Linked DNA regions of Homo sapiens. Each later gene encodes a partner of the first gene's protein in a complex. Each region holds a gene or a part of one and is shown on either strand. Other genes may lie near its edges.

Evidence for each region.
Region 2: KLHL42 (region 1) and CUL3 share a complex: the UniProt entries of both Homo sapiens proteins name them as parts of the BCR(KLHL42) E3 ubiquitin ligase complex.

What each region holds. Positions count from the first base shown.
Region 1 is NC_000012.12:27,790,085-27,793,906, forward strand, and holds part of KLHL42 (kelch-like protein 42), read left to right. Parts: intron 1-1,623; coding exon 1,624-1,817; intron 1,818-3,822. UniProt on the Homo sapiens protein: Substrate-specific adapter of a BCR (BTB-CUL3-RBX1) E3 ubiquitin-protein ligase complex required for mitotic progression and cytokinesis. The BCR(KLHL42) E3 ubiquitin ligase complex mediates the ubiquitination and subsequent degradation of KATNA1.
Region 2 is NC_000002.12:224,498,274-224,502,095, reverse strand, and holds part of CUL3 (cullin-3), read left to right. Parts: intron 1-1,608; coding exon 1,609-1,733; intron 1,734-1,878; exon of another isoform or gene 1,879-2,916; intron 2,917-3,822. UniProt on the Homo sapiens protein: Core component of multiple cullin-RING-based BCR (BTB-CUL3-RBX1) E3 ubiquitin-protein ligase complexes which mediate the ubiquitination and subsequent proteasomal degradation of target proteins.

The DNA.
Region 1 (3,822 bases):
TTTTTGTGTGTGCATAGCCTCTACCTCCATTCTTTCTTAGTATATTATTATTTTTGAAGACATCATTGTGTTGGGGTTGGATGTGGTCTTGAAATTCACTTGGTCTAGCACCTTTATTTCAAACACTAGAAAACAGAAATTTGAATGATAGTATTTTATCTCTGTGTAGTAGTTTCTGATAGACTATTTGATTTAATCATCTCTACCACCTTGTGATGGCTGTTACCCCATTTTACAGATGAGGAAGTGAGGTGGTTGGACCAGGGTCAGATAGCTGGTTATCAGCAGAGCTGGGACTAGAAGCGAGGTCTTCTGATTTGTGCTCAGGTTTTTTTCTGTTGCATCATGCTGCTGCTCATCCTCTTGTAAACTTGTGACTGTTGCACACCTCACAGCAGACTGACCCAACACTCCCAAGAGTTTATCCTTCCTGCCTTTTGTGTGCTATATCGAAACAAATTAATTTTGTGTTACTATTCAGTTCAAAAATCATAAGACTTATTTAGTGTCTGAAGCTGATAAGCAGCATTTAATTATTTTCTGAATATAGAGCTGGAAACCATTGTCCATCTCTTTTTCAAGTTATTATTTTTATGAAAGATGAGCATTTGTCAATAGAAGTATTTGTTGAATTAACATATGTAAAGACCCTAAGAATGCTGGATCAAAATATTTTGAGGCTGGTTGTGGTGTCTTATAACTATAACCCTAGCACTTTGGGAGGCTGAAGCAAGAGGATCACTTGAGGCCAGGAGTTCAAGATCATCTTGGACAACATAGTGAGATGCCATCTCCACAAAAAACTGTTTATAAAAAATTAGCTGAGTATAGCTGAATATGATGATACATACCTGTAGTCCAAGTTACTCGAGAGGCTGAGGCAGGAGACTCTCTTGAGCCCAGGAGTTCAAGGCTGCAGTAAGCTATGACTGTGCCACTGCAGTCTAGCCTGGGTGACAGAGCAAGACCCTGTTTCATAAATAAATTAGTAAATAAATAAATACAAACTGTGAATTTGTTCAGTGCTGACCTCTCCCCATCTTACATGTTGTGAAGCAGTATGTTAGATGCCCTTGGAGGCGGGAGGCAGGACCAGTGTCTTGCTCAGGTATACTCGTTGTGCAAGGATCTCCTGACCTACCCTTTAGCAGTCACTCCTCGCACCTGCCTGTCTCGACAGCACCAGTGTGTCCCTAAGATGAAGCCATACTACTCAGTAGGAAGAATGAAATACCCATTCTGAGAGGTGAAAGACAATGGGGTGATGTGGGTGCCTTCCCCTCTTACCCTTGTGCCTGCCCCTGAAAGAAAGTGTGGAGTTTAGTGTATACACATTGTCTTTGGTTGCTGGACTAAGGCTGAACAAGATTAATAACTTGTTGTATTGAACTGCTTATCTTCGATAGCTAGTGTTTGGACAGTGTGCCATTCCCGTGGAATCTTGGGGACAGGAGTGAGATTCGAGAAGCCATCCTTTCCTCCTCTGTCCTCAGGCGGAATGGCCCCCAACTGGGAGAGCGAATTTTCTTCAGATGTTCAGGAGAGTCTAGTAGTTCATGCCATTGTTACACTTTTCATTGATCAGAAGAACTAACTCTGTGGGCCTTTGTGTCTCTCTTTCAGGTCTAACTTCAAACTTGTGGCTGTTAATTCAAAACTCTATGCCATCGGAGGGCAGGCCGTTTCTAACGTTGAGTGTTACAACCCCGAGCAGGATGCGTGGAATTTTGTGGCGCCCTTACCCAATCCTCTGGCTGAGTTCTCTGCCTGTGAGTGTAAGGGAAAAATTTATGTCATTGGAGGATACACTACCAGAGGTAAGTGAAGGGACCAGGTAGGTGGTCTGCCCATGTGTAGGCGTCAGCAGTCTGGGAAGGGCAAGAGGGTGTCAGAGGAAGCCCCGACATATCCGAGTGTCATGTTATGCTTTAATAGTGTACACTTACACATCTGGAAGGAAGAGAGTTCCATATGGCAGGGATGATTGGGACAGGAGGGATCTTTTGATAACTTTGTGTGAGCATGAAAATCGAATGGGGAAGGGAGAGCTGTGAAAAAAAAATGTTATCTCTTTTTTTTTGCTTCTGGAAACCCAGCTTTTTGGTCAGCCGTCTTGTGATTTGGCTGGGCCTGGTTTGTGGGGGTCGCTCTCTGAGGTTGGGTAGCTCTTTGGAGAAGATTATCTGGGAACTCCCATCCTTATCCCAAACATACACCAAACCTGCCCCCATCCACCATTATGGAATTTAGTACCAGAGCATCCTTGCAGATTAGTTCTCATTTTCTCTCTTTGTGAGCACACACACATCAGGTAGAGGTTCCAGAAACCCAGCTTTAGGACACTGTTCACATATCACAGGAGGAGCAAGGACATGAATACAAGAGAGCTCTTTCCTGACCAGCAGTGGGAGGTGGTTGTACTATCTATTTATTTGTTTATTTATTTATTTATTTTTTGAGATGGAGTCTCCTTCTGTCACCCAGGCTGGAGTGCAGTGGCGTGATCTCGGCTCACTGCAATCTCTGCCTCCTGGGTTCAAGCAGTCCTCCTGCCTCAGCCCCCCAAGTAGCTGGGATTACAGGCTGCACCACCATGCCCCGCTAATTTTTGTATTTTTAGTAGAGATGGGGTTTCACCATGTTGGCCAGGCTGGTCTGTAACTCCTGACCTCAGGTGATCCACCTGCCTTAGCCTCCCAAGGTGCTGGGATTACAGGTGTGAGCCACCGTGCCCGGCCTGGTTCCACTATTTATTAAAATGTATATATGTGTTTTTCACTTTTTTGGTAGGCATTTTATTGTTAATAATTTGGAAATTAAAAAAATTTCTCCACAAGCTTATTTTTTGTGGAGACAAGGTCTCCCTGTGTTGCCTAGGCTGGTCTTGAATTCCTGGGCTAAGTGATTGTTCTGCCTTGGCCTCTCAAAGTGCTGGGATTACAGGCATAAGTCACCATGCCCTGCTTGCCAGCAAGTTTTATACTGCTCTTTTTGGTAGGGAATTGTCTCAGGTTACAGTGATAGAGAACAATGTAGTTGTTGGTGGGATACAGTGGCTCATGACTGTAATCCAGCACTTTGGGAGGCTGAGGCAGGAGGATTGCTTGAGGCTGAGAGTTGAGGACAGGCCTGGGCAACATAGCAAGACACCTTCTCTAAAAATGAAAAAAATTAGCTGGATGTGGTGTCATGTACCTGTAGTCCCAGTTGCTTGGGAGGCTGAGGCAGGAGGATCACTTGAGCCTGGGTGTTCAAGATAGGCCTGGTCAACACAGCAAGACCCCTTCTCTAAAAATGAAAATAAAAAAATTAGCTGGTTGTGGTGGCATGTACCTGTAGTCCCAGTTACTTGGGAGGCTGAGACAGGAGGATTGCTTGAGCCAGGGGTTTGAGGCTGCAGTGAGCTATGACTGCTCCCCTGCACCCCAGGCTGGGTGACAGAGTGAGACCCAGTCTCTAAAATAAAAAAAAAAAAAAGAAAAGAAAAAATAAAACTGTGGTTGTGGGAAGACAGACAATGGGGGACAGTCAAGCAGAGGGGTGCCTTTCCTTCCCTCTACTCTCCAAAGCAGATGTCTCCAAGTTACCTCTTAGCCAAGGAAATCTATTTCTGCATTTGGTCTGTGTGACTCTATGGAGCCCAGGACTTACAGAAAAGGTGTAACCTGGCTCTTAGGACTTTAAGCCACATTATGGTAGTAGACCTGCCGTTTTATTTGACATGGTGAAATAAACTACCACTCCTTTGTGGTACCATATGGGCAGGACAGAGCTCTTCAACCCTGGCTAACAAGCCTGAAGAAGACCCTGTGAGGCCGCAGC
Region 2 (3,822 bases), on another chromosome or scaffold:
TGTAAATAGTTGTATGATTTGCTTTATAAATATCAGTGTTTACAGTGGAGAAGAGCTGAGAGGAGGAAAGATGCAAGTCCATGACAGAAATTTCGGGTGGACAGGAAATAGTGGTGTAATTATCCTGGATTTTTATTTTTAGATTGTTTAGGAATTTATAGTTAAATCTAATATATTGATATATTTTCTTGTATTTTTTTGTTTGCTCTAGTAAGTTTTTAAATTTTTTTCTTCCACTAATCTTACACATTGAAAGCTATAGGGAAGATTGGGCTAGATCCCATGCATATTGATATGGGATGGATGGACTGTCCACTTTGTGACCCTCCCTTCCCCTAACCAACTTGCGAATGTATAAACAGTTCTCCACCTCCCCCAGTACACCATCTAAGAGTCTCCTCTATGATCCTCTCTTCTGTGCATCATCCAAGTTTATTTTCAGTTTCCTTAAAGTTAAGTAATCATTTAGTGGATACTTGTGAAGAAATCGGAGTGTAGAATGCTTCTTGATATTCATAAACTGATTCCTCCCCTTAAAAATTTACATTACTAAATCATTGAGGTAAGATAAAAATGGAATGATGGTTTATAACACATCCTGAATATCAATAATAGAAATAATATTTAATCTTTAAGAGTTTTTGTTGTGCCTTATTGTTGTTTACTTAAAAATTTAATTTGTTTAAAGGAAGAAAATAATTGTGACAGTTGATACTAGCATAGAAGTAGTTATTCATTGTACAGATATTTGTAGAGCACCTGCTCTGTAGCACTGGATCTATAGTGTTATAGCACTGGATCTGTATGCAGAGGTTGTTAGAATGTGAGCTACATGCTAAAACGTAAAAGTTTTAATTAACTGTAGTTGAAATAGGTGCTGGAATATTAGAAATATGTATTAAGATAGTAAAAATATTTTAAAACTGAGACGAAGGATATTATGCTAGAATTTTCTCTAAAATGATATAATTGACCCTCCTTGACCTTTTATTTAAAAAGGCCCAAACTTTTCAGTTCTCAGTGATAACAGTAAGACTTGATTTATGTGCCAAAAACTATTCTTTGGTCAGTGTTTTTAAATTAACATAATAAGCAATAATTAAGCTATTTGCCATGTAGTTAAAATTTGGGAAACACTGGGTGGGTCTAACCTTTAAGGAAATCTGTTTTTTTGCCGGGTGCGATGTCTCACGCCTATAGTCCCAGCACTTTGGGAGGCTGAGACGGGCAGATCATCTGAGGTCAGGAGTTCGAGACCAGCCTGACCAACATGGAGAAACCCCGTCTCTACTAAAAATACAAAATCAGCCAGGCGTGGTGGGCATGCCTGTAATCCCAGCTACTCGGGAAGCTGAGGCAGGAGAATCGTTTGAACCTGGGAGGCGGAGGTTGCAGTGAGCCGAGATCGTGCCATTGCATTCCGGCCTGGGCAACGAGCGAAACTCTGTCTCAAAAAAAAAAAAAAAAAGAAAAGAAAATCTGCTTTTTTTTAAATTAGATATTAGACATGGAGCTAACTGCTTTGGTAAATCTAACACAATGTCTAAACAGAACAGAAAGCAAATCCTAGTTAATTTTGAGGGGAATATCTCTTTCTGTTTTACATAGGTATCTTTAGGTGGTGTTGATCTTACAGTCCGGGTGCTCACGACAGGATATTGGCCCACTCAGTCAGCCACACCAAAGTGCAACATCCCACCAGCACCAAGACATGCTTTTGAGATATTCAGAAGGTAAATCAAAATCAGACTTTGTATCACTGTGTACAAGTAAGTGTTCAAAATTAAAAATGAATTTGAACATTAGTATCCGTAATTGAGGATGAATGTATTCCATTTATTACCTCGTGATCAAAAGGAGCATTTATCCTGGCATACAGCAATTTCCCCCTCTATAGGATCTTGATGAGTAAAGTAAAGCAGGCATAATTTATCTCTAGAAAGATTGTTTATATGCTGGCATTTGAAATGCCTTTTATTTAGAGCAGCAGTAAAAATGGAAAAAGAGAAAGTAAATGATGATGGAAAACTAGACCCAGAGAATTCCTTGGACTTTTCTGAACACTTCAGCTAACTCCAATTGTTGGAAATACGTGGATACCTTATTCCCACTAGTACTCAGAGTCTCTGAGATGGCAGTTTTGATGAGGAAGAGGAGCAAGATGAAAAAAAAACAAGAGTGATATGCAAGAAAAAAACAGAGAAAGATCCAAGCAAATATTTTTTTTGGGCTGCTGAAAATAATTGGCTTATCCAGTGTGGAGACTGCTTTGTGAAAAGACCACTCGTGTGAACACTAGGGATGAAGATGAGTGTATCACCCCCTTCATCGAGCAGCCTAAGGTGGACACTTAGACATTGTCTGTGAGCTGATTGCACAAGGGGCAGAAGTTTTTGCAGTGACCGTAGATAGCTGGACACCCCTGCAGGGTGCTTATAAGTGGAATAATACCAGAGTGGCTTCTTTATTTCTTCAGCATGGTGTAGATTAGTTATCAGTGACCAAACAAAAGGTCTCTTGACCCACTTGCATCTTGCTGCTGGGATCAGAGACAGCAGAGCTACTCTAGAACATCTACTGGTGAACTGTTAACCTCAAACCAGATCTGAAAAAACAACTGGGAAGAAACTGTATTTGATATTGCCAGGAGGACAAGTATCTGTCACGACCTCTTTGAAATTGTGGAAGGCACTGTACAAATTCTTCACCTTAGTCTTAATGATTCTAGTAATTGTCTTAAGTGTCCAAGTACCAGTGCCTTCTTTGTGTGAGATGTAAAATATTCCCATAGTAAAAGGTTGACATCAAACATCTTACTACAAAAAATTCATTGGTACTTATTAAGATGTTCTTCCAGGTGAATTGCCTGACCTTGATGTCAAAATGTATTTGAAAGTTGTTTGAATATATCTTGAATGATTTCTGTGGAGTTTGTGATTTGTATCAGAAATAATTTCGACTTGCCTACACTTAAAAACTTGACGTGGGTTGTACAGAAACTAAAGATATTTTTGGTGCTGATCCAGGAGATACGTATTTTTAAATAGCCCATATCCTGGATCTTTGTTGAGTATTCAGCATATTGACATGTATCTTTGTAAGGTGAAGTAACTAAGAATTTAACTTAAAAAGCCTCGAACATTCTGGTGCTATTCCTGCTGTCTTCTCTACATTACCATAGCCAGTTGCTTTCATTTTGAACCAGAAGCACTAGCATATTATTGACTTGTAGCTTCATAAATTAAAAAAATAAAAACTAGATTTTGTCTTTTAGAACATAGGCCATTTTCCAGGAAAGCAGCTAGGTTTTAATCCATTAATCTTGTATACTGTCTCCACCACCACAATTCACATAATCCTGTAGACAGTCCTGCTTCACCCTGGTCAACTGCATGATCCTTATTGTAATAGTGAATCAGTATAACACTTTAGACATGCACACAGATAACACGCTGTTGCAAGAGTTCATGATATGTCTGCTGTCCAACTAGTTTTATTTGCCTGATCCTACTGGTTTAGGCACTGCCTATAGTCTCGAGTTCACAGAAATGTTGGGTTTTTTCCCTCCCCAAAGTCCTCATTTTTTATAAACTGTAGAAAGGCAAAATGACAAGGGAAAAGGAATTCTAAGAGTGAAGGGATGATTGTTATATTGGGGCAAGAACCACAGAGTGGCTCAGGCTTTGGAAAAAATATGGTGTGGATAGTGACAAAAAACATAAATATAAAAATTCAAGAAAAACTACCAGTTTTGAACAACAAAAACAAAGGGAGAGTTTATCCTTTATAATTTTAATATGTAAGAAAAAATTACATAAACTT